2 linked regions of the Homo sapiens genome follow. The protein of the gene in region 2 purifies or fractionates together with the protein of the main gene of each other region. This does not show direct contact. Each region holds a gene or a part of one and is shown on either strand. Other genes may lie near its edges. The genes, in order: KLHL23 and PLS3.

Region 1 (15,696 bases), on a different chromosome or scaffold from region 2:
GCTCTTCACAAAGACACAAGTCAAAGAACAGAAGACATCCAAGAAGGTAGGCCATTCCTTATGGGCAGACAGCATGTTCCCTGTATGAGTGTTAAGGTAAGGCCAACATATGGCTCTGCACATTGTAGGAGTGAGTGCTTAATAGTAAGTGAAACCTAGAAAGAACATGCTTCTAAAACAGGAAACAATTTCTAGCTGAACTTCAATCACTGGGTACCCTTTCTGACTATTTGATAGAATGGTGCTTTTCAACTACTTATGAACATTGTATTTTATATAATTAATGTCATAAATGAAAGATGGCATATAAAGGAAAAAAATTTTAAAGACGCTAATATTTTTGACCACACAGACTTACAATGTGCATTGTATAAAGACATCAGGGAAAATATTTGTAGATGTGACCCAATCAGAATCTCATTGTGATTATTGTTAGATGGACATATATGAATATTTTGAGACTTTTAATTCTACCCATGTGTAGTCTACAATAAAATCAGCATTTTCTATTTCCAGTCCATTTTTAGCCATCCTTTATGCTACTAAACTACATCACAACATACACTATTTGAGACAGTATTTTTGTTACCTGGATGTGGACTGGAGGTGATGAGGCTCCATTCGTTGATATCGGAATTGTAGCTCTGAACTTTGTCATAGGTGCAGCTTCCTCTGTAGCCACAGTGGCCACCAATGACGTAGATAACATCATGTAAGACACAGGCAGTAGCATTTCCCACACCTACGTATTAATTAAAATCACATCTTTAGATTGATCTTTTGTTCTTTTTTGCAGTGAACCCTGGGCTAAATTTATTGTTGTTTTTGTTATTACTGATGGTAAAATGCAAGGTACTGTGCTAAGTGCTATAAGGGACAAAAGAATAAAAAAGGAAGGCTCTTTGTGCTCTTAAGAGAGGGTGAGACGTGCACACAAACACAGCCATGCACCACGCACAATGATCTCCATAAAATTATAATGGAGTGGAAAATGTCCTATCACCTAGTGATACTGTGGTAGCTGTTTTAAAGACATGGCATAAAGCATTCTCATGTGTTTCTGGTGATGCTGTTGTAAATAAATCTACGCCTCTGGCAGGTCCTTCAAGAGGTATTCCAGAAGAAGGCATTATTATCATAGGAGAGGATAGCTCTATGCCTGTTATTGCCCTTGAAAGCCTGCAAGTGGGACAAGATGTGGAGGTGGAAGACAGTGATATTGATGACTCTGACATTGATGATCCTGACCCTGTATAGGCCTCAGCTAATGTGTATGTCTGTGTCTTACTTTTTTAACAAAAAAGTTTAACGAGTAAAAAAATCAATAAATAAGTTATATATATATATATATATATATATAATATAAAAAAGCTTATAGAGGCCGGGCGCAGTGGCTCACGCCTGTAATCCCAGCACTTTGGGAGGTCAAGGTGGGTGGATCACGAGGTCAGGAGATTGAGACCATCCTGGCTAACACGGTGAAACCCCGTCTCTACTAAAAATACAAAAAATTAGCAGGACGTGGTGGTGGGCGCCTGTAGTCCTAGCTACTCGGGAGGCTGAGGCAGGAGAATGGCGTGAACCCAGGAGACTGAGCTTGCAGTGAGCCAAGACAGTGCCACTGCACTCCAGCCTGGGTGACAGAGCGAGACTCCGTCTCAAAAAAAAAAAAAGCTTATAGAATAAGGATAAAAAGAAAGTATTTTTATAAGCTATATAAAGTCTACAGTAATGCCTGTAATTCCAGAAGTTTAGGAGGCTGAGGCAGGGGATCACTTGAGCCCAGGAGGAGTTTGAGACCAGCTTGGACTACAAAGTGAGACCACATCTCTACAAAAAATAAAAAAGTAGCCACGTGTGATAGCATGTGCCTGTAGTCCCAGCTACTCGGGAGGCTGAGGTGGGAGGATTGCTTGATCTCAGGAGGTCAAGGCTGCAGTGAGCTATGTTTACATCACCGCAGTCCAGCGTACGTGTCAGAGCAAGACCCTGTCTCAAAAAAAGTAAAAAGTCTACAGTAGTGTACAGTAATGTCCTAGGCCTTCACAATCCCTCCCCACTTACTCACCGACTCAACCAGAACAACTTCCAGTCCTGCAAGCTCCATTCATGGTAAGTGCCCCAAATAGGTCTACCATTTTTATCTTTTATGCTGTATTTTTACTGTACTGTTTCTATGTTTAGATACACAAAGACTTACCATTGTGTTATACTGCTTAGAATATTCAGTATAGTAACATGCTGTACAGGTCTGAAGCCTAGGAGTAACAGGCTATACCACACAGCCTAGGTGTGTATTAGGCTGTAGAATTAGTATGGTATAGCCTGTTGTTTAAGTATAACGTTCACATGACAAAATTGCCTAATCACACATTTCTCAGAACATATCCCCATTGTTAAGTGGCACATGGCTGTAATTAGAACACTAGATATAAAATGGAAGAAACACCATGAAAAAAGGGACAGATGAACTGCTGGGCATGGTCAGGGCAAGAAAACACTGCATTTGACGAGGGAAATCACAGCAGGTGGTGGTGGAATTTGACCTGGGTGATGGTAGGAAGTTGGCAAGTATAGATGAGAGGAGGCCATTCTAGACAGAGGGAAAAGCCAGTGCAAAGGCTTACTGGACAATGTTAAGTAGCCCAGTTTGACCAGGGCAGGTGGCACATTGAGGGTTGTTGCATGGGACTTTAAGGCTGGCATGGTAAGTTGAAGCCATGTAGCAAAGGATACTTACTGATGCCCAACAAAGAATCTGGATTTAATTCAGCCAGATTTTAAAGGTTTTTAAACAGAGGAATAGAGCAACTAACAAAGGAAGAACAGGTACCAGAAAGATCTAGTTACTGGCCAGGGTGGGCGGTCTCGAGGGCCTGATTTTGAAGGGGCTTTGGGTATGGAGGGAAGAGCATAGAGGAAAGAGACAGGTAAAACACACAGGTCTTGATGACTGACTGACGCAGAGGCAAACCAAACCGATTTTGAGGTCCTGAGCTGGAAAAACTGGAATCACTGATGCCAAAACAAGGAGGGGTGGGGGAAGTCGAGGAGGGGAAGGAGAGGGAGGGGAAGGAGGAGGAGGAAGAAGAAGGCAGAAGGAGGGAGAGGAGATGGGGGAGGGGAAGGGGAGGAGGGGGAGGGGGAGGGGAAGGGGGAGGAGAGGGAGGAGGGGGAGGAGAGGGAAGGAGGAGGAAGAAAGAGGAAGATAGGCGAAACATGAAAGGGAGATAGGGAGGAGAGGGAGGGGAAGGGGGAAGAGAGGGGAGGGTGAGGAAGGGGAGGGGGAGGAGGGGGAGGAAATAGGTTTGGAGGGAAGATGAAGAAAGGAAGAAAGATGATGAGGATCATTTTAGTTGAAAACGTTGGTTTTGTCTTTCCACTAACTTTTACCTAGCACCATTTTGCATGATACAGTTCAATCTTCTTGTTCCTTTCTATTCCAAAATAAAAGTGGATTTATAAGTAGAGCAGTTATGATGGAAAAAAATAAAGATTCAGGAGTTCCTAAACAGCCAAGTATTTATTTATTCTCTGTACATTAGTGAACTTAATTTGGGTCCAGGACCAAAAAAAGGTAATAAATTTTAAATTTGACTGTACCCAAATTAAGTTTATTACCAGAGAAAGCTGCTATTTCACTTCAAGGCTACAAAATAAAACGAATTGAAAAAAATGTTATCCTTTCTACCAAAAAATGGGAATCTAAAAGTTCAGTATGGCTGGGTGTGGTGGTTCACACCTATAATCCCCGCACTTTGGGAGGCCAAGGTAGGAGAATCATTTGAGGCCAGGGGTTCAAGACCAGCCTGGGCAACATAGTGAGACCCCCCGCCATTTCTAGTTTTAAAAATTAAAAATAAAATTTTAAAAATTGTTTAAAAAAAGTTCTGTATGAGTCCACCCACCAAAACAAGCAGTAGTCAAAACTGCACATAACTGGCAGTGTTACCTCTCCCTGGGATGACTAGATATAAACAAGAATCAAAGCTTTGAGTTCAAAGTATAAAACTGGAATTTCAGACCCAGTTAGCAGGTGAGGGAGGACTTTGAGGTATGAGGGTCTCCTACTCCACTCAAGGTTAACGCAAGCATGCATATGGCTTTTGTTTCACAGTAGATACACCATCGCAGCATATCTTTTTTCAACAAGCACTGTTCTAAATATAAATTTTTAAAATTTCAGTAAAGTAATAAGCTTTCATTCTCAAAGAAATATACTCTGAACCCACCCTTGTAATCCCAGCACTTTGGGAGGCCAAGGTGGGGGGATCACTTGAGGTCAGGAGTTCAAGACCAGCCTGGCCAACATGGTGAAACCCCGTCTCTACTAAAAATACAAAAATTACCTAGGTGTGGTGGCACATGCCTGTAATCCCAGCTACTCAGGAGGCTGAGGCAGGAGAACTGCTTGAACCCGGGAGGCAGAGGTTGCAGTGAGCCAAGATCACGCCACTGCATTCCAGCCTGGGAGACAGAGTGAGACTCCATCTCAAAAAAAAAAAAAGAAAAAGAAAAAGAAATATACTCTGAACCACAAAACCATTGAAACTGTTATATCATCCTTAAAAAACAGAATCAGAAATGTATGCTAGTTTACAATAGCTCCTTAAATATATGGACTTTTCTTATTTCTTTTGCAGAAGAGGGGTCAGGACATTCAGAGCCCTCCTGGAATCGGCAAGTAGTGGTGAGACTCAGGCAAAGACAAAAACCAGGGGAGCAACAGCACCGGGCTTTCTGCTACCTTCTCCCACCCTGGTGTGACAGTGGTCACAACTTCACATGAAATCAATTTCTGCTCTATAAGAGCTGACATGTCCTTCAATACCGACATTCAGGACAATCATGCGTAACATTTATAGCATGCTTACTCTGTGTCAGACACTGTTCTAGGCACTTCACAAGCATAGATTAATTTAATCCTCTCAATGATCCGAGACTAGGTAATATTGTCATCCCCATTATACAGATGACAAAACGGGGGCACAGGGTGATTAAACAATTTGCCAGAGCTCATCAGCAAGTAAGAGGAAAGCAGGGATCTGGATGCAGGCAGTTTAGCTTCAGAGGCAGCGTGCCTGATCCCAAGACTGTTCTGCCTCTCAGCTTCCTGCCTGTCATCCAAGGATCATACCAGGTCAGATTTCCAGACCAGGTCAAATTCCCACACTCTCACTAGCATTAAAAAAGAAACAGAAAAGCCTGGGAAGAAACATTTGGGACAAAATGATACAAATTTGGTAACGACCTACCAGTTGTTTTTGTACAACTCCTCAGCACCAATGAATAAATACAATGAAATAAGATTCCCGTTTAACTTTTTTTCCAGTGGGAGAGAAGGAGAGCAAGGCAAACAAATCGCCAAACACAGCAGAAAATAGTGTTTATCAGACAGATACCGAGACCCAGGGGTGTGCCGGGTTCTGTGGGCCACATGAGGGAGAGTATGGTGTCTGCCCCTCTCAGAGAGGACTGAATTGCAAAAGCAGACGTTGTCTCTAGTTCCTGGAAGAATGTACTTTGTTACATCCTGTAGGGACCAAACCTTCCAAGGTTTTAATGAAGGACCTCTTGAGAGCTGATCAGCGTATTTTGAGAGGAAAAAGTTGAATAGCAGAATTTTAAAGGGTTCAATTTTAAGAACATGAAAAAATGAAAAACTGTCCAGATTTGTCTCTTCATCTAGCCCTTGACTTGAATATAAATTCTCATAACTCTCAGACAAGTTGGGAACTATGCTATACTGTTTTTATCTGGAACATTCTGTGTAGCATTATTTGTATAATTAACTATAGTTCCTAGATAGCATCCCAAAGTGATAAATTCAAGAGAAGTGAGACTGCTGGCCTAGCTCCAGACATCTAAAAAATACAAAATAAACATAATCTCCACTTACCTTTAATCATGTTTGCAATAGGAATCCATTTCTCTTTTAAAGGATCATAGAACTCAGCCTCTTCTGCTGGAGCCCCTTTTCTGTAACCACCTAAAGCATAGACACAGCCACCCAAGGTGACTGCACAGTGGTAATACCTGGCATTGAGCATTGGCAAACCTTCTGTCCATTCATCACTTTCACTGTTATAGATCCACACTGTGTCAAGAGCTTCTATGTTATCCGTCCTGTAGCCCCCAGTTACATAAATGTTGGGTCCTAAACATGTAACACCATAGCTCTCCCTGGTATAATCTGGTATTTCTGCTCCCTGAATCCAAACATTTGTCAAAGGATCCCATATGTGAACCTCTGATAAAGGATGCCAGTAATAGCCTCCAATTATATACATTGTGGCTGTGGACCTCTGGGAAATCTCTTTATGCATGGGATTCAAGGCATTGTATATTAGGGAGCGGATCTTATTTTCGGTGAGCAGGCAGCTTCTTTGAAGGCCTAAGGCTGTTTTTAAGTACACTGGATCTATATCAATGTTGATATAGCTCAGTAGATTATAGAGGCATTCAATTCGATTTTCTACATCATGAGCAGTCCACTTAATAACTGGCTCTATGATAGCTTCTTCTTTCCAAACACTGAGATTCTTTCTGGACAAGATAAAGAGAAACTTTTCAAGGCTGATTTCCAGAAATTCTTCTTGTTGCCACACTTCCTTAAACTTTGAACATAGAATTCTTCGAGATTCCTTCTCTAGTTCTGGACACACATGAAATTCTGCAAAGGAGTGCATTCCAATACAATTATCAATATCCAAGTGCCTTACCAAAAACCGCTCACAAGCCTTCTTTACTGAAAGGAACTGTAGCAGATCCGCTGCCTCAAGCAGGCTTTGAACATTTCTTTTAGTTATTTCAATTTGGGAAGTGTATGCATAATTTACAAGGCCTTCCAGAATATCATGGTGGATGCCAGAGAGTTTTATTTTATTTTTAAATTTTTCTTTCATGTCAGCTGTGAACATTGCCTTAAAATAATTGCTGCAAGCAGCTAAAACGGCTCGGTGACAATGGAAAATTATGCCTGAAGGACACTGAAGAGTAATATCAGTAAATAATCCATCCAAGTAAAATGTTCTGAATGCATCCAGAAAATCCACTGGATGTGTTGAATCCTTGAAAAGATAAATATAATCTTCTTGTCCTTTTAGAGCCATGGCTGCAATAAATATGAAATAACAAATGTGTTTTCAATGTTGCACATTCTCTCAAATAATCAACGCTAAATAACTTGACTATCATCGGATATACTCCAAAACTGGACTAAGTTCAGCATCTAAATAATAAATGCAAAATGTGGATGGACTGTTTGATCATTTATATGGTGGTCAATTTAAATTCAGGGTAGCTCGGAGCTTGAAATGAGGCTCCTGGATTTTTCAGTAGTCCTTTTGAGAGTACTGATTTGCTATTCCATTCACCGCAATCTACCCTGGCCTGGCGTTCGGAGATGAGATCCCACACTAGGCAAGGCAAGTGTCCGAGGGTCACCCCACTCGAGGCCGGACCTCAGCTGTCTCGGCTCGGCCCCAATTCAACCTTTTCCCCAAGCTCGTCTCCCTTTCAAATCACATCGAAATGCCAAGAAAGGGATGATGGAAATATAAATGGACAAGAAGAGGTCTCGGAAAAGGGAAATCCCGAGCCCTTTCGCTTAAGGAAGGAGAGAAAGGAAGGCAGCTCGGCGCAGCCCTTGCAGCCCTCGCCCCCTCCCCCGCGCCCGCCGCAGGGGTTTCCGCGCGCCCCGCGCCTGGGCCCCGGCCCACGTTCCCGCCCGGAGACCGCCCCGCCCCGGGGCCAGGAGCGGGGCTGGACTCGAGGGCGCCGCGTGCCGCCCGCGGGCCCGGTGCCCGCGTCCCTCTGCCCGGCGCTCCGCGCAGGTGTGGGAAGGACGCCGCAGGCAGCCCCAGCGCAACGCGTTCGGCCCGGCCCGGCGCCCGCGCGGCCATTGTCTGCGCTCCTCTCCCGCGCGGCCTCGCTGCCCGCGCCCGGCCCCGCTGCCCGCGCCCGGCCCCGCTCCCCGCGCCCGGCCCCGCTCGCTCCCAGCAGGCCGGCCTCGGGCTGCGGGTCCACACCGCACCTACCTCCCGCCGGGGCTCGGGACGCGGCGCTGGCCCGCGGGCTAGTAGCGAGCGGGAGCGGGGACGCCTCCGGCCCCTCTGACCATCTTTGGAAGAGGCGCTCGGAAGCCGCCAGCTAGTGCCGCTCCACCCCACAAGCAGCTCCTATTTTGGTGTCCCGGCGGCTCCCCCGCCTCCACCCGAACAGCCCCCCGCACGGTCTGGGCGCGAGGCCACTCGCGGGAACTCCCCCGTCGCCGGGCCGTGCGGCGAGCGGGGCGGGGCGTGCAGGCGTGAGCACGGCTCGGCCCCTCCCCAGCGGCGCCCCCCACAGCAGGTGGGACTGCTTCCCCAGGAGACAGCGCGCGCCGCCGCCTTCCCCTTCCTTGGCTCGCTCTCTGTCCCGCGCGCTCTCTCACACCCGGTCGAGCGTCTTCTCTTAGATAAACTCTGAGTCCTGAATTATTAATAACACCATATATGAGTGTGTGTGTGTGTGTGTGTGTGTGCGCGCGCGCGCGTGTGCATGTGTGTACACTCCCCTCCCTCAGTAGGCTTCGCCAGCCCAGACTCAATCGTGAGGACAGAGAAGGGGGAAAGAGTGGAGAGAATGGGGCACAACTAAAGGTCAGGGATTGGAGGCGCCGTTGAAATGCCAGAAGTAGCCGGCCTTTCCCACAAACGCCATCCCACCCCCAGCAAAGCACTCAGGAGGGCGCCTTGGTGCTGGTGAGCACATCAGGGGTTAAGCTGAAGCTTTGAGAGAAACTTTGGGCAGCCGGGGCCAAGGCGAAGTCCAGGCGAAGTCCAGTCGTGCTAAGATTCAGGTTATTGTATTTAGAGCATAGCAGCTGGAAGGAGCAGCCTTTCTGGTGACGGCCACTCTAGTCACAGATGTCTATGTGGTACACAAAGTTCATTTTCTTGTTCCAACTAAAGCCAGTATCAAATATTTTTGTATATCATTCATTCATTCATTCGCAAGATTTTATTAAGTGCTTCTAGTGCCTGATAGGGATAGACACTAGTAGTGATAAGAGTGTTGACAGATGGTCCCTAGCTCACAGGGACCTTCACCACCACCAGAGGACCATGTGTTTCCCAGAGTATGGTCTCAGAAACGCAATATACATGAATGGCCAGATAGTATGTGACAACAGAACTCTGAACCACATAAGAAGCCCAGGAAGCCAGACCACAACCTTGGTAGCAGCTGAACCAGAACAGTCAGGAAGTAGTCAACGACTGGCAATTTCCCTATTTTTTTTCTTTTTTGAGACAGGGTCTTGCTATGTTGCCCAGCCTGGAATGTAGTCGCACGATCTTAGCTCACTGCAGCCTCGATCTCCTGGTCTCAAGAGATCCTCTGCCTCAACCTCCCAAGTACCTACGACTACAGATGTGCAATTTTTGAAAAATTTTAAATATTTTTTCATGACAGGGTCTCACTATGTTGCCCAGGCTGGTCTCAAACTCCTGGACTCAAGCGATCTTCCTGCCTGGGACTTCCAAAGTGCAACTTCCCTATTTTTACCCCTAGTTCCACCTCTGCACCAACCAGAGAAAGCCAAATATGTTCCGCAAACCCATCACATAAAATACCCCCGCTTCTAGTAGCCCACCTGCAGCTTTCCCATGCCAACAACTTCCAATCAGAGCATACCGGGGGCTTTTCTTCACTTCTATAAAGCTTTCCCACTCGTCTGCCCCACCTTTGAGCCTCTGACAAAGTGATGGTGAGTGGGACTCCCTTCTACAGCAAACTCTGAATAAATAGCATCTGTTGGTTCTCCTGTGGGTGGGTTTTAGTTTAATTCCACAAGTCAGATCATCTTAATTGAATTATGTAAGATGCTGGTTATGCAGCCCCCACAACTACCACACCCCACGCACAGACGTCTGCGGGGTGGAGACCTAGGGATCTGCATTCTAATCAAGGGCAGCAGGTGATTCTTATGGACAAATAAGAGAATGTGTTGGACCCAAAAGGAAGAAGGATGAAAGTTTAACATCCCAACATCTGGTAAACAGTATAGTTAGAAAAGGAAAGCATATGAGATTTAGTTTCGGGCTTAAGGCTCATCTCTGCCACTTATCCAACATATAGCCTCTCACAAATTACTAAACTTCTCTGATCCTTCGTCTTCAGATCTGTAAAACACAGACAACATGGATACTTTCTCAACCTAACCTAAGGTTATTGGAAAGACAAATTAATAATGAAGCACTTAGGACTTGATATATAAATGTTAGCTACTATAATGAAAGAATATTTACACTTAATTCTGCATCACAACCTTAATTTGGAAATTAGCATCTTCTTAACATTTCTTCAGAAATTATGAACTTCATAGTTAATAGTAATTATAGCTTGCCCTTCATAACTGATAGTGATGCTGTTGTCACTGTTGCCATTCAAGGACACAATTGTGACTGATTGAAGGAGACTTCTCTCCATTTTTGTCACTGAAGTGTAGAGATGGCTGTTTTTGCAGCTATAATTACTGTTTGCCAAGTTTGATGTATAAAAAAATATAGGCTCCATCTAACTTGGAGTAAGGGCTTCTGGAATCATAACTACATGTAATAATAAATGATTCATGAATAATAGAATTCACTATATTCTCATTTATGCAGTTATTTCAGATGGCTGCATGAACCAACTAAAACTCTTGCTTTCATTTCGTGATGTTCCCTGGTTGTGAATTACTACTTAAAAGTGTATATCAGTGTATATTACATATTAGACTATTATACTGCTTCACTTTGCTAAGAGAAGAGCAGGTCCTGAAGGGTATTGCCTGGCATAGTTCCTCTTTACCATGTGCTTATCAAAGAGACCATTGCAAATGCTGATAGATTTGATGCATTCAGAAACATATAATTAGCATTCATAAATCAAATAAATTAATGATACCGTTCAAGAAAACAGATGTGCCATCTGTGGTTCCAAGTCTTAAAGAAATAAAGTGCTGCCATGGAAATGAGACATAAATGATTTGGCAGATACTAAGCTTGGCATGGAGTTAGATGACTTATTGACATCACACTTCAGCTTTCAAAGGACTCCGAGTTCTAAAAATAATGATTTTATTTATAATTTTTACCTTATTAGTACATCTTTCCACTAAGTACAGCCATGCCATTAAATGTTTGATATGCTGTGATATCATTAACAATGTGTGTAGATGATGGGCATAGATAGAACATTTTGTATACTTCATTTACATACTGGATTAAACAAGTTGCTGCCAAGTTAAAAAAAAAAAAAAAAGGCCAGGCCCATTGGCTCACGCCTGTAATCCCAGCACTTTGGGAGACCGAGGCAGGCAGATCATGAGGTCAGGAGTTTAAGACCATCCTGACCAACATGGTGAAACCCCATCTCTACTAAAAATACAAAAATTAGCCAGGTGTGGTGGTATACGCCTATAATCCCAGCCACTCAGGAGGCTGAGGCAGGAGAATCTCTTGAACCTGGGAGGCGGAGGTTACAGTGAGCCAAGATTGCGCCATAGCACTCCAGCCTGGGCGACAGAGTGAGACTCCGTCTCAAAATAAAAAACAATAGTAGGTAAAATGTATAAGGCTACCACATACAGCTTTGCAAATTGTGCACTGCACAATTCCAGCTCATGCAACTTAAGTAGAGTACAGTGTAAACACTGCTCTCAGGAGTTGTATAGTACACAACCAACGCAGGTATCTGTGGCTGCCCTGCAGCCGATGTGTCTTGGTAAAACCTTTTTTGGTATGTTTCCTGTAAAATAAGAAAGTGAACATTCTAATAACTAGGTAAAAATGCTTTTGCAAGTCACAGGTTTCCAATTCCTGGTTTCCAGCAAAAGTGAAAGAGGATTTTTGGCAAATAATTTGGAGGGAATGACAAAATGAATGGCATTACTATAAAAAAGGTTTTTTGTTTGTTTTTTTTTTTTTGAGACGGAGTCTTACTCTGTCACCCAGGCTGGAGTGCAATGGTGTAATCTTGGCTCACTGCAACTGCTGCCTCCCAGGTTCAAGAGATTCTCCTCCCTCAGCCTCCTGATTAGCTGGACTATAGGTGCATGCTACCACGCCCAGTTCATTTTTGTATTTTTAGTAGAGATGGGGTTTTGCCATGTTGGCTAGGCTGGTCTTGAACTCCTGACCTCAGGTGATCCACCTGTCTCAGCCTCCCGAAGTGCTGGGATTACAGGCATGAGCCATCGCGCCCGGCCACTATGATAAAATTTATCTCATTCTTACCTATTTGTCTCTGTGAACATGTTTTCTCAGCGATTATGTCTATAGAAATGTTAAGCAGGAACATTATTGAACCTAAATACTGTCTCATTCCAGCAGTAAGCACTACTTGACTTCATACTCTAAATGAAAGTAGCCCTATTCATCAGATTGAAATAATTTTTAATAATTTTTTACTTTTGATTTAAACATATTTATGTTTAATTAATTATAATAATAATTATAATATTAATTAGACCAGGATTTGTAAAATAACCAAAGATATAAAACCATCAAGGACATACAAATTGTAATTTATACACATTTTTGTCACAGAGAAGGTTAAGAGATTAATAAAAGATATTCAGTATAAAACCATACAGAAAAGTCTTTCTTTTTTTTGGCCTGGCCAAAAATGCTTTCTTTGAATGGTTCCAATATGTATGAATTTTAGTTACCATGGTTTAGTTAAATAACACCTGTCCCCTGAGAACAAGGTTTCAAATTTCAGTTACTGAAGTAAATTAACTCTGAGTAACTGCATAAAATACAAATTTGCTGCTAGCTCCTCAGGTCCATGAATTACTACATTAACAAATGCGCATCCTGATCAGTGACCAATCATGTATCTTCTTTCAAAGTCTGTCAGTGATTGATCTCTGTGCATCTGTCAGTTCACATACAGACAGTAAGGCTTGCAGTTGCATTGTCTCCTTGTCTGCTAGTAAAAAACCCATGTGACATTTTACAAAAATGGGTGATTGAGAAAGGGTATTGACCAACAAGGATGAAAGTATGGCATGGAAATAAAAAGTGACAATACCGCAAATAAAATGTGAAATGGCTGGGCATGGTGGCTTACGCCTGTAATTCCAGCACTTTGGGAGGCCAAGGTAGGCGGATCACCTGAGGTCAGGAGTTCGAGACCAGCCTGGCCAACATGGTGAAACCCTGTGTCTACTAAAAATACAAAAACTAGCCAGGCGTAGTGGTGGGTGCCTGTAATCCCAGCTACTCAGAGACTGAGGCAGGAGAATCACTTGAACCTGGGAGGCGGAGGTTGCAGTGAGCCAAGATTGTGCCATTGCACTTCGGCCTGGGTGACAAGAGCAAAACTCCGTCTAAAAAAATCAACAAAAAAAAAGTGAAATGAACACAATGAGGTTATAGAGGAAATAGCTGACCATGGGAATGTTTACACTACCACCATTGGAGAGAATTCAGATATGCAGCCAGGGAACTTAGTGCAGGTGAACTCATGACATAAGTGAGTCACCTTATGTCTCAAAGGAAGTGATCCTGGCAAAAAACTTCACATTAAAGGAACTCTTGGAGATATTTCACCACATCGAAAATGCAAAGGATAACACATTGGAAGTTGATCCAAACGTAAAACTATGACAGTCCATCAAGGCGTAGAAAGATGAGTACGCCAAATCATAAGTTTTATGACAAGAAGGCAAGAAACTAAGCGAACTACTATTGTTAAGTGTTTACAAAGAAACATAACACTTTATCAATGTTTCTAATGTTTTAAATTGCAGTATACTAAGTAAATATCAGTCTTACCATGTTCTTTATTTCCCTATACATTTTAACGAATAGTAAGAGAGTTCATAATGTTGTGACAAAAAAATGTAAAGGTCATAGGACAATCATAATTTTTCCCATTGATTATTTAGATCACATTATACATTTTCAACTTGTACAGTTATTTTGAAGGTCCTGTATTATTGTGCAAAGTGAGGACTGCCTGTATTTTCAGTGGGACAACCTTCTCTAAGAGAAGTAGAATGGAAGTACGAACTCAAGAAGAAAGAAGACTGAGAACTAAATTTTAAAAATGAGAAAATAAAAACTTCCAATAGTTTTTTTTTCTGAACTCCATGTCTCCTGATTCACAATACAGACGCAGCACAGGGCCTGGGCTGAGGTATATGTGGGGTCGGTTTACTCTGCCTCCTGTTTCTATACAGTCAGCGTAAGAACACAGACCATGGTAAGTACTAGGAAGCCAAAAATTTCCCACTTTTAAAGAACAACTTGTTTATGTATTTTTAAATGAATGACAGTGGTTTTGAACGGCTATATTTAGTTTTTACTAAATAGATTTAAAAGTATTATTTAACAGTCATTATTTATAACATGTTAGAAATTACAACCTTGGCAAATATTTAAACTTGTGATGAAAAGTTTCCAATATCGATTTAAAAATATGGAAGTGAGTACATAGTTTTTCAAACTTATTAGATTTGAAAGACCACTGATCTGGTCCCAAAACAGGAATTAGCCTATTACTGTTTGAGGGAGTATTATTACTATTTAAAAGATAGCAGTTTATTTGAGAATATGTTTCTGTGCCACAGAGCTCAATCCCAGATAAAATTAATACAAGACAGAAGGATAATAAACTAGGGCTTTTTCCATTATAAGCGATGGAGAAAGAATACAAGTAAGAGCATTGGCTCAACTAACCCAAGAAAGACTGATATTATTCTATAAGTCAGAGATTAAAGCTCGCCAAAGACTTCCTGGCTCATTCAGTAAAAGCCAGAGTACTTATAACAGGCTCCTGGATCCCCACATCCAGCTCTGCTTTGCCTCTCACCAGGAGGCGGTGCCTCAGGGCTTTCTCCGGGCTTTGCTACTAGCTATTCCTTTCGCCTGGACTGCTCTTTTCCCAGCTACCACTACAGGACTGGCTCTCTCACCTCCATTAGGATTTTTTTTTTTAATTTTCTTTTTTTTTTTTTTGAGACAGAGTCTTGCTCTGTCACCCAGGCTGGAGTACAATGGTGTGATATCAGCTCACTGCAACCTCTGCCTCCCAGGTTCAAGTGATTCTCCTGCCTAGGCCTCCCGAGTAGCTGGGATTACAGGTACATGCCACCACACCCAGCTAATTGTTGTATTTTAGTAGAGATAGGGTTTTGCCATGTTGGTCAGGCTGGTCTCGAACATGTGACCTCCAGTGATCCTCCCACTTCGGCCTCCGAGAGTGCTGGGATTACAGGCATGAGCCACTGCACCCTGCCTTTTTAAAATTTTTGTGGGTTCATAGTACGTGTATATATTTATAGGGTACGTGAGATACTTTGATGCAGACATGCAATGTGTAATAATCACATCATGGTAAATGGGGTATCCATCACCTCAAGCATCTATCCTTTGTGTTACAAACAATCCAATTATACTCTTTTAGTTATTTGAAAATGTATAATTATTATTGGCTATAGTCACCCTGTTGTGCTAGCAAATACTAGGTCCTATTTATTCTTTTAAACTAGTTTTTGTACCAATTAAACATCCCCACAGTCCCCCACTACCCTTCCCAGCCCCTGGTAAACTTCCTTCTACTTTCTATCTCAATTGTTTTAATTTTTAGCTCCCACAAATAAGTGAGAACATGTGATGTTTGTCTTTCTGTGCCTGGCTTATTTCACTTAATATAATGACA
Region 2 (15,260 bases):
ATGGCATTGATAAAGAAACAAACCAGTGAAAACATTATTGGTTCTGAATTACCAAAGAGATGTGTGTTGATTCAGAATGAAACTTCTTATCCTGAAACCTTCTGTGACACTTCCTAAGGAATTTCTTGGTTACTTAAACCAAATGTCCAATTATCTTTATAACCGCAAGTATTTATGAAAACTGTGGCATGATTTAAAAAACTGTGGCACCAATTTAGTCATATGGTGATTCAAACCTTTTTAAAAGTATCAGAGAAGCACTAGATCACCTTTTACTGCCTAGGTTCCGTTTCTGGCTGATTTGATTTGTTTGAAATTTTTTTTTTTTGTAATGTTTAATTTACATCTCTTTTGTAGTAAGTTAAAGCACTATGTTATTCTTTCAGTGACAGTGACAAAAATGGGAACATGCTAACCAAGAAGTGGATGAATTTATCTCCCAAGGCCCTTTTGATTGCATGAGTTTAGTTTCTTCCTTGCAATTACAGATCCTTTCATATCATATCCTCATTAGTATGGTTTTCCTTGTGCTTAATAGCCTAATTCTGTCAATCTCCTTCTCTTTTTGAATAGCAGCTATATAGAGATATGTTAAATCAAACTAAAATTTGGCCTGAGAAAGTCTTTGTACTTGTACACTCGAATTCTTAAGTATAAACTGCAACCTAACTTAGTAGGTAAACAAACTGAAAACCTAATTTAGGAGTAGGCTTCTATAACAATAGCTGAGTCTCAGCCAATCACAGCCGCCATACTTAAACAACCACTCACAGGCAGCCAGCTGTTCAAACCCTGCTCAAATAAGGCAAAGGCCCAGCTGTTTCTGCACTCGCTTCTGTTTTCTGTATGTCATTTTCCTGATTCTGTCCATAAATCTCCTCTGACCATGGGGCAGCCCCAGAATCTCTGAATCTGTTCTGATTCTGGGAGCTGGCTAATTCTCGAATCGTTTTTGTTTTTCTTGCTCAGTTAAATTCTGTTAATTTTAACTTGCCTAAAGTAACAGATCTAATTCGCATACCATATAGATCACCAATTAAAATTGTACAATTCGATAGTTTTAAATTTATTCATATAGTTACGCAACCGCCACTACAATCTATTTTAGAATATTTTCGTTACCCCAAAAAGGAACCCTACTAGCAGTCACTCCTCATTTCCCCCCAATTGCCCATACCCCCAGTCCTAGGCAACCACTAATCTACTTTCTGTCTCTATGGATTTTTCCCTTTTTGTACATTTTATATAAATGGAATCATACAATATGTGGTCTTTTGTTACTGGCCTCTTTTCACTTAGCATAATGTTTTCAAGGTTCATCCACGGTGTCACACTGTCAATCTCTTTTTAAAGTCATTATTTTGCATACTTAGTAAACACAGACCCAAATATTTAACTATAAGCATTCTTGGTAGAATAATCAGTTATAGCATTTAAATATCTGATCATATTCTCTCTCTTTCTCTCTGTCTCTCTCTCTCACACACACACACACACACACATAATGCAGGTAGACACTCATAAATTTACCAAAATTTGGCCTCACATATTCAGAAATCAGTTAAACGCAATAGACTGGACATGACTGTTTCTTTAGAAGTCTGGCTAGTGCTGTGGAGAATTATGGATAACCCTTATAAATTTTAAAATGTGCGCTACAATTTATTCTGCAGGGTTGTTTGTATATGTTTAAAAGACTTTTTTCATAGGAAGCCTCCAATATTTCAAATTACATTCTAATAAAGGTTGAGGTTGAATATTTCACCAAAAAGAATGCTTTATAGCCCAGACACACAAAATGATAACATCAAGTTGTACGTGCTAGTGCACTCACCTACCTTAAATTCTGTGTAAGTTACAGGCATGTTATTAATAATACTTCCTTAAAAGCAAAATGTGATATGTGCCAATTAATTATGTAAATCTCATTGAGGGAAGGATTATTATGGCTCTAACTAAAGCAACTGTCAAAATTACTGTAACCTGGCCAGGCACGGTGGCTCATGCCTGTAATCCCAGCACTTTGGGAGATGGGTGGATCACTTGATATCAGGAGTTTGAGACCAGCCTGGCCAACATGGTGAAACCCAGTCTCTACTAAAATACAAAAATTAGCCGGGTGTGGTGGCGCACCTGTAATCCCATCTACTCAGGAGGCCCGAGAGTCGCTTGCACCCAGGAGTCGGAAGGTTGCAGTGAGCCAAGACTGCATCATTGCACTCCAGTCTGGGTAACAGAGCGAGACTCCGTCTTAAAAAAAATTAAATTAAAAAATTAAAAAAAAAAACCAGACAAACAAAATTACTGTAACTAAAAGCAAGACCTTCTGTAACTTGGCAGTTTAATTAATGTAAGACAAGAAAGATTCACAAGTCTTTTCTTTTATTTTCCTTCCCTCCTTCCCTCTCTCCCTCCCTCTCTCCTTCTCTTTCTCTCTCTCTCTTTCTCTCTCTTTTTTTTTTATTATTATGCTTTAAGTTCTAGTGTACATGCACACAACGTGCAGGTTTGTTACATATCTATACATGTGCCATGTTGGTGTGCTGCTCCCATTAACTCTACATTTACGTTAGGTATATCTCCTAATGCTATCCCTCCCTCCTCCCCCAACCCCAGGACAGGCCCCGGTGTGTGATGTTCCCCTCTCTCTTTTCTTTTCTTTCTTTCCTTTCTTCCTTTTGCTTCCCTCTTTCCCTCCCTCCCTCCCTCCCTCCCTCCCTCCCTTTCTTTCTTCCTTCCTTCCTCCTTTCCTTCCTTCCTTCTTTTCTTTCCTTCTTTCAACAGGGTCTTACTCTGCTTTCCGGGCTGGAGTTCAGTGGTGATATCATAGCTCACTGCAGCCTCAACCTCCCAGCCTCAAGTGATCCTCCAACTTCAGCCTCCCAAGTAGCTGGAACTACAGGCATGTACCACGACCATGTCCAGCTAATTTTTGTATTTTTTGTAGAGACTGGGTTTTGCGATGTTGCCCAGGCTGGTCTCAAATTCCTGGGCTCAAGTGATCTACCCACCTCGGCTTCCGAAAGTGCTGGGATTACAGGCATGAGCCCAGCCCACAAGTCTTTTTAATCACTAAAGTAAGTGTTAAAAAAATATATTTTCTCTTTTAAAAAGATTACGTTAGTGAGATCCCAAGCAATCTTCCTTCCCATTGATGTTATCACTGCACCTTTGTGGTAGGCAAATCCTCAGTTTTTCTTTTGCAGATAAGGAAGTAGAAGCCTGGAAAGAAAGCCCAAACTCAGAAACTTACCTAAAGCGCTCCCATTTTGCTTTCTTATGTTAAATTAAGTTTAGCCTGGTTGGGTGTGGTGGCTCAGGCCTCTAATCCCAGTAGTTTGGGAGGCCCAGGCAGGTGGATCACTTGAGCCCAGGCGTTCAAGTCCAGCCTGGACAACATGGCAAAACCGCGTCTCTACCACAAAAAAAAATTAGTTGGGTGTGGTGGCACGAGCCTGTAGTCCCAGCTGCTTGGGAGACTTGCGGTGTGAGAATCACCTGAGCCTGGGAAATTGAGGCTTCAGTGAGCCATGATCGTGCCACTGCACTCCAACCTGGGTGACAGAGCGAGACCCTGCCAAAAAAAAAAAACAGTATTTCCATACATAGTGAACTGTAACCTAAACAGATGTGTAAACACACTGTAACCCTCACTTGTAAAAATTACTGAGTTTTGGCCAATAAAAGCAGCCAATTGTTCAAATTGAGTTCAAATAAAGCAAATGCCAAGGTGTAACCAATCCAGCTATTGCTGTACCCCACTTCCATTTTCTGTATGTCACTTTTCTTTTTCTGTCCATAAATTCTCTATGAACATGTGGCAGCACCAGAGTCTCTCTGCACCTAGTCTGGTTTGGGGTGGCTGCCCCATCGTTCATTGCTCAATTAAACTATGTTAAATTTAATTTGTCTGAAGTTTTTCTTTTATCACTTCCTAGGAATGAAAATGGTTTTCATTTCTACTTGCCTATATCAAGTCTTACCCATCTTTGTCAAGCCTAGCTCAAGTTCCATTGCACAAAGGATGCCTTCTACAACTGCTTTAGCCCTATTATTCTCATTCTTTTCAGCCTACCTACGGTGCTTCTTATATATTCTATCTTGAATTGTTTTCTCATTATTACAGTTATGTGGACTTTGATCTTGAATTAATATTAGACTATTAATTCGTTGTGTTTTGAGACCATACTTTTTCTATGTTGCTTATAATAGTTATCTGATTGATTAATTAGATATTTAACACCCAGAAAGTCGGGAGAGGGGAGGGTGACACTTTAATTTTGAGCATTTCCAGTGATGATAGTGATCTTTGTTAAATCTACATATTATAAAGTCCATACTGATTAAATATGTCCTAATCCTATTAAAGAGACTTCAATTAATTTTTTGTTTTTTATTTTTTAATTTTCTTATTCTCAGATACTGATAATTTTTTTTTTAACAAGTGAAAATCTGAAATAAGCTTGGACATGTCAGAGTAATTTCTTTATGTGAATGTGCGTGTAAGATAGTTGGCCTGCATTAGCAGGCATTCACATTCATAATAATCTTTAGGTTTGAAAAATATTTGACAATTGCCTATTCACTATTAATATTCATGTCCTATACATGTGTACATTTTGAGTTGGAAACATAAAAACACTCCACTAATAAACAGTGGTAATAACTGTTCAAATCTGTATCCTATGGATCAAAAAAAAATTAATAATTGTCCAGGTCTTCCAAGATTTCCTCTATGCCAAATATTTTAAGTATGAGAGAAACCTTTAAAATCATACTTAATTTTAATAAAAATGTCATCTCACAGCACACTGAATAAAAAGAGGGATTAGGATCAATCCAAGAACCTAAAATATCACAACATGGAATAGAATTATCCATGAATTAAAAAGATGATTTAAAAAAGGATAATTCCTTGAAAATAATCTGATAAAATAAAATACAATTAATTAAAACAGATTAGTACACAATTTTACATTTAGAGACTGAGAAAACAATTAGGTGTGTTAGAAAAATGATTTAGTATTGAACTGATCAAGATTCTTTAAGTTATTCCTGGCTTATATAAAGTTTATGCAGCAAAATCATTTTTTAATAGACTACAGAAAGGAGGTTTTAAAAAAAATGATAAAAATTATCTCAGACGGGGTGAGGAAAAAGAAGAAAAAATAAAATAAAATAAAATAAAATAAAATAAAAAATGGATAAAAAGTTCAAGCCAGTGGTCAGGCACGGTGGCTCACCTCTGTAATCCCAGCACTTTGGGAGGCCAAGGCAGGTGGATCACCTGAGGTCAGGAGTTCGAGAGGAGCCTGGCCAACATGGTGAAACCCCATCTCTACTGAAAAAACAAAAATCGGCCGGGTGTGGTGGCAGGTGCCTATAATACCAGCTACTTGGGAGGCTGAGGCAGGAGAATCGCTTGAACCCGGGAGGCAGAGGTTGCAATGAGCTGAGACTGTGCCGTTGCACTACAGCTGAGGTGACAACAGTGAAACTCTGTCTCAAGGAAAAAAAAAAAAGTTCAAACCAGCAATGACATGTTAAGAATAAAGAATTAAAAATGGATAGAAGAGGAAACTGACAACTTACTCTAGGAAAATTTCAGGGAAAATTTTAGACTATGTACACATAATACATTGTGAGCTAGACTGGGGAGAGTGTTGGGCAGAACAATAGGAAAAAGAGCAAGAAAAAGGGGGATGTGCGTATCAAAAGGAGGAAAGAAAAGTAGTTTGGACAGACAAAAAACCTAAGAGAGATATTGGCGCCTTCTTATGATATCAGCGGAGGACAGGAAGAATAAATGGTTTTCAAAATTTTGTGATATTGACTTTAAGTGATTTATTACAAAGGCATTAGGATCGAAAATTGGAAATGGAAGGAAAGGTAAAAACTCTTAGGTTACTGATTCACAAGGTCTGTGAGAATCCTATATATATTAATAGCTTTTTGTTGCTGTTGTTTAACAAGAATAGACATAAAATAACCATTGGTTCAGCAAACATTTACTGAACTCCTATGTGTCAGGCACTATGCAAGTCACTGTCAAAATAAATTAAAGCCTATAAGCAGGTGGAGGGAACCCTGACAAACATCTGTGCAGGCTTTTTGATACAGATAAGAAAACAATCAACTTTGGGTTACTTCGTGAATGATCCTCTATGAGGTAAATTGATGGCATGAAAAATTATAAAGAAATGCTGTTTAAGAGCTTTGAGCCTGAGGATCCTTTCTTCCAGCAAAATGCTAAATTTGAAAAGATCCTTTAGATTCTGGGCAACACAAAGGTAGCTTAGTTACATCAAACTGGCTGGGTATCTTAATAGTATTCATTAAAATGGAGTTCTACCTGGATTATATAGTGGAGCTTGTTAAACAGGAATCTCAGCTAGCATCCAAATAGGTGCTTCTGTGTTTAGGGTGTGTTTTATCTGTTGGAAAGTTACTGAGGCAATGAGAACTAATGCCATCAGCTAGGTACACTGCAGCTTTGAAACTATGGACTATTGCATTTCAATTAAAATGACATTTCTTGACTGAATTCTGACATCCTCAGTGATAGTGGTGAATGAAGACTTTTATCAAAGTATAGATTCTATTAAGCTTTTAAAAAATTTTATTAATTTTTTTTGTAGAGATGAGGTCTTGCTATGTTGTCCAGGCTGGTCTTGAACTCCTGGCCTCATGCAATCCTCCCACTGCACAGCCTCCCAAAGTGCTGGATTACAGGCGTGAGCTACCCTACTCGGACCAATGTAAGCTTTTTTGAATTAAAAACAGGAACTGTAAATAGCATATACGTAGGATTCTTAATATTTTTACTTTAAATTCTAGAATTTGAAAAATAAACTAAAATTGAATACAACGTAATTGAGACAAATATATCTGCACTGGAAAATTTAGCTTACAGAGTCCCTTCATGCTATTGCTCAGTCTGTAATTTTAAGTTTAAGAGCAGGTGGAAGCTCTTCAGCGGTGACCGACAGACACCATAAAAGGTAGAAAACTGAAAAAGCCTATTTCCTGTATCTAAAAATTTTTTGTAAAGAATTCCAGAAGTCACACCAAACCTTTGGCCAATTACTGAATGCTAGAAATCTCATTTGGGAGCTTACTGTAAATGTGTGTGGCAATGCACTGGCTCCATGTTCAATCCAACGCCAACATGTTGAAATCAGTATTTTTGTGCTGGCCCAAACCTGAACCAGTAGAAAATCTCCCATAACAGAAATTCAATGTTTGTGAAAGCATGATTGCCCTCCCATTTCTTTTTCACCTTCCTGTGCCTTTCATAAGTTCTTCCAGTTGGTTAATCATTAATTAATATTTAACAAGGCTTTTTCCTCGTGCCAAGTCCTCTGCTAGTCTAGCCTTTAGGCAATATATGAACTCCCCAAGTTCTTCCCTTTTAAGAAGCCTTGGCACTCACTACGGATTAATTTCTCTAAGGAAATTCATAATGGCAGATGAAATAGGGGTTCCTTTTCAAGAACATTCCATTTTAAAGCCTCTCAGCATTTTTTCCTGGTACATGTAAAATGCGACTTAATTGAACTAATTTTAAATGTTGACAGAACTTTCCAAGCACACATTTCCTCAACAAAATGGTTACGACTGGAACAGGAAAGGGCTTAGACTTTTTCTTCTACAGCTATCCCACAAGTCAGTCTCTTGACCTGACCCTGCAAAATCCCTCAAACTCTGGCTCTCTGAGTTGATTTTGGATATACGATGAACCATAGGTTTGGAATGCAGATAACCTCCACGTGTATTAATGAAAGAGGTCAGCTATGACGTGGAAGCCATCTCCTGGGCAGAGAAGGAGAAGAAATGGCAGTCTGGGGAGTAGTAACATGTCTCCAAATTTTCTCTGGTGAAAGGAGACTGATGAGAATTGATACCCATTTCCGGTCAAAAGAGTGGAACCAATGTACTTCCAACCACCTCCTCTCAACCCCTCTCCGCATGGACAAACATACCAGACAGGTGATGTGGGCTAACAATTTACTTGGCATGAGGCCAAAGGCTTGAGGGCCCTGCCCTGCCCATATTCTTCTCCCTTGACTTCTTAAGGAAAGGAATGATTGCTGATGTTTCCCTCTGCACCCTTTGGCACCTGGACTGATTGTTGCAGATGTAATTAGGAATGTTCCCCAACATGCCGTTATTCTTCTCACGATTCTGGGAGAAACTGTACCCCTCCCCCATAGACTTATATAGGTGGCATTCAAATTCTTGTTCCCAACTTTTTCATCTTTTTATTAATCCCACAAGATTGTGTGAATGTGTACTCCGAGCCAGGCACGTTGGACTTCTAACTTCCTCTTAGCCCAAGTAGGAAGGGGAGACTCAGGCGCTGGGGACCATTCTCCTCTCCCTGCAGCAGAGTTGCAGTCCCTATCCCTCCTGGGTGCCCATCCCCGTGCCTATTTTCCTGGATCCCCACCCAGTTGATGTGACAGGCTCGTGGCCCAATCCCCTTCCTGGTTCCCAGGCCGACTGCTAGCACCACCCGAGCCAATGGCGGCGGCCGAGGGGCGGAGGGGGCTGGCAGGAGGGGAGGGAGCGCTGGCTTTAGAGCCACAGCTGCAAAGATTCCGAGGTGCAGAAGTTGTCTGAGTGGGTTGGTCGGCGGCAGTCGGGCCAGACCCAGGACTCTGCGACTTTACGTAAGTGCTTTGTAGGCGCCGGCGGGCACTAGGGGAGCGGGTTTCCTGGGCGTGGGCAGGAGTGGGTCCCGGGGAGAGCATCTCGGTTAAGCTCAGCAGGAACGTGCGGCGCACCGTGGGGCGGGGGTTGGGGGAGAGGGAGGTCGGAGAAATTTCAGTTGGAGCCCTCGGGCGCCCGGGCGATCGGTCGCAACCGAAATGGGTGTGAGTGACGGGGAGTTTCCCTACTAGCATCCGCCGCAGACACGTTTTCTGCACTTCACTGTATTAAGTGGTGTTTTCTTACTAGTTGCTCTTAACTTGTTGCCAGTCTTGGGCTGGAGTCCTAGACGCCAGCCCTTGCCCTGATTCCCCTCCGCGGCTGCGGCCCCGAAGTGGAAAGGGAGCGCACAACTTCCCTCTGTCGTCCTTCTCCAGCTACTGCCATCCCCTCTTCCCTCCCGCCCGGACTCAGGAAATCCCGGAGCCAGCAGCCTGCTACTCCTCCAGCCCCCACACGCCCGCCTCGGGTGACCTGGCTGGCTTAAGCCGACCCTGGGGCTCTGGAGAGGGGGGGCCGTGGCCGAGGGAAGGCACGAGGTTTGGGTTGCCTGCCTTCTGCCTGCTTCCCTCCCTTGTCCTTAGCGAGGGCGTCGCGAACGCACCTAGTCTCCCTATGAGTAAGCACTTTTTTTCCTTTCAGTAGGAGAACATCTCTGGGCTAGTAGGACAGTACCTTTCCGTTCTCCCCTGGCCCCACACCCCCTGTCCTTTTTTCAGCTCCTTTGACTTTGCGGCCCCGGGCGCGCGGTCGGGGCGGCGGCAGTCCCGGACCTCTCCCGACTCTTGGAGAGGGAGAGGCAAAGGGGCGACGGGAGGGAGGTAATAGTCTACCCCCCCGCCCTTTCCCCGCACAGCTGCACTTGCCTGTGTTTACTTTTCTCCACCCGCAGTACTTAAGCGCTGTAATGAGAGGCCCGGGGACGCCGACCACCCCCGCCCTGGCTTCTCGCCAGTCCCAAAGTTGCTGCCGCCGTCGCTGCTCCAGTGTGCTGGCGGTTCCGACCGCCGGGCTCCGGGACGTAAGATGATCCCAGCCCGGGAGGTGGAGTGGGGGTTAATGGCATCTGACTCTAGCCTTATGCGATGCTCCTTGCCTCTCACCTGAGCTGCACGATATCCCCAGTGGTGCAGAAGGTTGAACTTTTGCAGAAGGTTGAGCTTGGAGCTAAGTGGGTTGGAGAGCCTCGCCATTTAGCGTCAGACAGACGGGATGCTGGGGGCGCCCGGCCTGTTAAGAGGGATTGGGAGGAGGGAAGGGAGCCTGGCTAACAGTAGGTAGAAAATGTAGGGAAAAGTAAAAACCATTGAGGGGCAAGCACTTACTCCACTTTGCTGGATGTCACAATGGACTGGGGAGCCTAAACTTGATCCTCGAGATGCAGTTCATGGTGAATTCCAACTAAGTGGCTGGAGCCCCACACATACCAGTTGGAATCACGTGCCCCAAGTCTCTGATGGTCACATGACGTCTTTTTACTTTAAAGCTGGAATGTAATGGTTGAGGCCCATATTCCAAAAACCACCTCTACGTTTGAAAAAAAAAAAGGTGGGGAGGAGTGTGAACTAGCTTCTAATCAAGGAAGTCTACTAGGATTTTGGATGAGGGGACCAGAAAGGGAATTTGGTGCTCAGCTTTTATCCAAAACAAAAACAGGAGCTGTTTTTAAAATAAGGGATTGAAATATATGTGAGCTGGGACATGTATCTCCTCTCTTCTTCAATCTCATGGTTTTTCTAAATTTAAAAAACATCTTACTAATTATTTTCTAGGGAAGTCATCCTATTACTCATGCCTCATTTTGTCCCTGAATACTAGATTTGAAGCTAAATCCCACAAGATAGTGTTAAAAAGTAAGGCTCTGTTCATCTTCCTTGGTCTGGCCTATATTCTAATTGAACTGTTCCCTATTTTAGGCAACTACTTAAAGGTAGTAAATAACCTCTTGACTAAAATTAACCACCAGTTATTTGTGGTTTTCAATTAACTGGATTAGAAATCATGCACAAAAACAGTGGATAGTAAATTTGATACATCGAGTTGGTTGGGTTTTTGCCTGTCAGTGGTTTGGTAGAATAATGAGAGGACACTGAAACAACTTTCCCATATTGACCTATACCCGCCCAAGTGGCCCAAGTTAAGGTTGCTTCTGGGAAAACGTGGCAATTTGGCTATTCAGATTATATATTACAGAGTATAGAAGAGAGGCAGAGGAGCCTCTGAGGTCAGGAGTTTAAAAGCTTTGCTTATCTGAAAAAAAAAGAAAAAACGGACCTGGTTGATGCATATTCAGTCTTGAAAACAACTAGGGCAGAAGATATTTAAGAGATTCTGACTTTGTATTCTTTTGCCAAAAACCCTTTGTCTCCTGCAGCAGCCTCTGAATGACCGGAGCACTCCAGTTTCTTGCTGTTCATCCGTTTCTGAGCCTGAAAACTAGAACAACCTTAAAGCACATTGTTCTGACCCCAAGGCTAGCCTTGTGGCACAGATGAGCTGGAAATGGATTTAAGGTGCACCTGAGTTACTAGAGTTAACTACACTGGTAGATAGACCCCTCTAGTGGAAGTGAGGTGATAATATAATTTTAGATCGAAATAATAAATGTTTAACCTCAAAAAAAGGAAGTTATTACCACTCAACTAGGTTACAGTGGTAGGGGGATAAGTTCTTTTTTAAGTATTGTGAAATCATGTCTAAACAGAATCATCGCTAGGCTCTAGTCCACAGCTTTTCATTGTCTTGGGATGCCTACTCATTGAACACCACCCCCAATATTGCTGACTTTTTTTGGTGGTATGATCTAATGAGCCCAAATTTTTATTGAAATTAGGGGGCTGGGAGTCAAATTCTTGATTTTTACTGTTAGATCTAGCAGATAGCAACCCCTTTACCTGAGGTGGGGAGCTATTAATAAATAAATAACACTTTGCCTTGACTTAATACAGACGATCAACATTGAAGTCCAAAGTCTCTAGTCTGATGTAACCATTTAGATTCAATTGATAAAAATGACTAGGCTTATGGCATTTTGGGTAGAAGGATTAATTATAACTAGTGAGTAATAATTTGGGTGAGATTAAGCCTCTTCCACAAGTGGTTACACGCACATTAGACTTTGACTGTGACTGTTTATACTGGCAGAATGTCAGTATCTAGGGCACTATCAGAAACCCAATGAGATTTTTCTCCCAGGAGAACAGAATTCTGTTACTGAAAATAAAAGGGCAGCTTGGCCATGGTGCTTGAGCACCAAAGTGGTTCTTTTTGGTGACACTGAGAGGGTACAAGAAGAAAGTCCATTTGCCATTATCCCATATTCTGTTTTAGGCATTATTTCTACTTGGATTTTCATGAAATGTACTGACAGTGTTCTTAGCACATATGATAAATTCATGAGTTTGCTGTTGTGTTTGATCTAGCATAATCTATGTGGAATGTATAAGCTGAACTGTTTCTTTTTTGATGTTTGGTACAGATTATGAAAGTAGCTGGTATAAAATAAAATTTGAAAATGAATATCTCTCAATACATGACAACAATGGGGTATCTGTTTTTAGAATCATGTTGTCTTTGGTCATATGGCAATTTTTCTTTTGGTGAAGAGTGATCCAGAAGGCAAAATTTTTGATCTGTGAAAATAATACAACTCATTTAGAAGAAGTCAGCTGGGTCATGTTTTGAGTCTGTATTATTTTAGACAGTGATATACCATATAATGTATATTCAGTGTGTTGGAGGTTTCAAAGCTTTTTGGATACATTACAATGTTGGAAGATTTTTATATACCAGTGGTCATGACTAGCTGATTTTAGTTATGAGAGCGCTTTGGTTAAAGTTATGGAAACAGTCTAATCGTGAAATGTCAGTCTTAGAAGATCTGATCATACTTGGGCCAATTTATTTTAGTTACGGAGGTGAGACAATTTCAGAAGATTCACGATAAATTTAATAATACCAAATTTTGCCTTAGTCTTGACACTTGGAAGATAAATATTAGTGAGTATAAACTGTTTTAGGGATGAAGAAGTATTGTTAGTATACAAAAATGAAAATACTAATTATTTTAGCATGGGTCTTTTAGTCCTTTGCAGTCTGGACAGATAGATTATCTTAAGTAAATCATTGAACTTGCCCTCAGAGGAATTAGATTCTAGATAGTGCTCTGCCATTGACTCATAATTTGACCTTCGGAAAGTCATTTAAAATTATTATATTAATAACTAATTGAGTACATACATGTGCCAGACACCATTCATGCTTTTGTTTATAAAAAGAGAGGATTGCTCAAGCTTTTTGGTTTGCTGGGTTTTATTTTTTCAAATATTCATAATCTGGCTTATTTCACTTATCAGTTGACTTTTCAAACTTTGATGCAATTGCATTGATCCAAGCTAAATACTTTGTTGGCAAATTGATGACTATTCAGGAAAGTGATCACCAGTGGGTTATTCCATGACTAATGTTAGTTCTTTAAAATAAAGAGGTGCCATTTATTTAATTCCTTGACAGGGATTTTTGGTGCATTAAGCCTACTGATTTTATAATATGAGAAACCTTACATTTTCTTAAAAGTTTAGAAACGTATTTGATAATAAGGAGGTAGTGTTGTTTATTGGAAAAGCATTGAGCATAGAATTTAGGGTCTTTTAGTCCTTTGCAGTCTGGACAGATAGATGATCTTAAGTAACTCATTGAAATTTTCTGTGGTCATATCTGGGTTTCACTTTATTTTTAAGCCATGTGATTCCAATCTACATATTTCACAGGCATGGTAAAAGGATAAGTGAGAAACGTGAAGCCTTGGCTTTTAAGCAGACAGGTGCTATATAAATTCAAAGTACTGCAGCAGTGTATCATAGAAACACTAAAGCTTTAACAAGAGTTTACAGAAATGGCAGGGTTCTCATCACGTAAGTCTTGCCACATTTTTCTTTGTCTGTAAAAGTTCTGCACCCATCCAATTTTTACAAGCAAAGGAAAAATAAAGCCAGACATATTATAATGAAAAATAAGAGACTAGGTTGATAACAATAGAATAAAAACCTACATGTGATACTTTCTTCTTCTTCTTTTGTTTTGTTCTGTTTTGTTTTGTTTTAAAGACGGAGTCTTGCTTTGTCGCCCAGGCTGGAGTGGTGCAGCGGCCGTGATCTCGGCTCACTGCAAGCTCCTCCTCCCGGGTTCAGGCCATTCTCCTGCCTCAGCCTCCCGAGTAGCTGGGACTACAGGCGCCCGCCACTGTGCCCAGCTAGTTTTTTTGTATTTTTAGTAGAGACGGGGTTTCACCGTGGTCTCGATCTCCTGACCTCGTGATCCGCCCGCCTCGGCCTCCCAAAGTGCTGGGATTACAGGCGTGAGCCACCGCGCCCGGCCCGTTTTGTTTTGTTTTGTTTTGAGATGGAGTCTCGCTCTGTCGCCCAGGCTGGAATGCAATGGCGTGATCTCAGCCCACTGCAACCTCTGCCTCCGGGTTCAAGTGATTCTCGTGCCTCAGCCTCCTGAGTAGCTGGGATTACAGGCGCGTACCACCACGCCTGGCTAATTTTTGTATTTTTAGTAGAAATGGGGTTTCACCATGTTGGTCAGGCTGGTCTAGAATTCCTGACCTTGTGATCCGCCCGCCTTGGCCTCCCAGAGTGCTGGGATTACAGGCATGAGCCACCGCGCCCAGCCCATGTGATACTTTCTTCTATTTCTTACCTCAAATATTGTGCAAGGTAGCCCGTTAAAGCCATTAATTGGGTGGTGTTTTTCCCCTTTTTAACTAACTACTGAGTAGAATTTTGGTCTTCAGTGGTAATTGTTACAGAGTCCATTGGCTTACCATACCTCATTTTTAGTTTTGTGATTGCCCATAATGGGAGGTTTCGTGTAAAAAACCTCATAAAAAATCAAGTTTTTCCTCCTCATAATTGCAGTCTAAAGGAGGACAACACGCAGGTCTGGGAAACTGCATAGTGGAAGAGATAATCTATACATTTAAGTAGCATGCCATGAATAACACAAAAAATGGCCTGGCACGGTGGCTCACATCTGTCATCCCAACACTTTGGGAGGCCGAGGTGGGTGGATCACTTCAGGCCAGGAGACCAGCCTAGCCAACATGGTGAAACCCCGTCTCTACTAAAATACAAAAACTTAGCCAAGCACGGTGGCACGGGCTTGTAGTCCCAGCTACCCAAGAGGCTGAGGTGGGAGGATTGCTTGAGCCTGGGAGGCGGAGGTTACAGTGAGCCGAGATTGCGCCATTGCACTCCAAGCCTGGGCTACCGAGTGAGACCCCATCTCAAAAGAAAAACAGAAAAACAAACAAACAAACAAAAAAAAACAGAAAATGTGGGAAGTTAAGTTGAAAAATAAACACCTTCAAAGCTATTAACTTGGATTTTCTTTTCTTTTCTTCTTCTTTTTTTTTTTTTTTTTTTTGAGTCAGGTTCTCACTCTGTCGCCCATTCATACTCTGTCCAGTTCATTGAAAATACAAGTCTGATTCCCTTGAGTTGTGATATTCATACACACACGAGTATATATACACTTATGTGTGC

What was found.
Region 1: the proteins of PLS3 (region 2) and KLHL23 purify together in Homo sapiens (affinity purification with mass spectrometry; 2 studies listed by BioGRID and IntAct, with this or other methods). This does not show direct contact.

Annotation. Positions count from the first base shown.
Region 1 is NC_000002.12:169,726,431-169,742,126, reverse strand, and holds the start of KLHL23 (kelch-like protein 23), read right to left. Parts: upstream 8,296-15,696; 5' UTR 8,040-8,295; intron 7,115-8,039; 5' UTR 7,113-7,114; coding exon 5,900-7,112; intron 743-5,899; coding exon 590-742; intron 1-589. Other genes in the region: PHOSPHO2-KLHL23 (kelch-like protein 23), read right to left, coding at 590-742, 5,900-7,112.
Region 2 is NC_000023.11:115,552,589-115,567,848, forward strand, and holds the start of PLS3 (plastin-3), read left to right. Parts: upstream 1-8,585; 5' UTR 8,586-8,672; intron 8,673-9,815; exon of another isoform or gene 9,816-9,942; intron 9,943-10,037; exon of another isoform or gene 10,038-10,143; intron 10,144-15,260. UniProt on the Homo sapiens protein: Actin-bundling protein.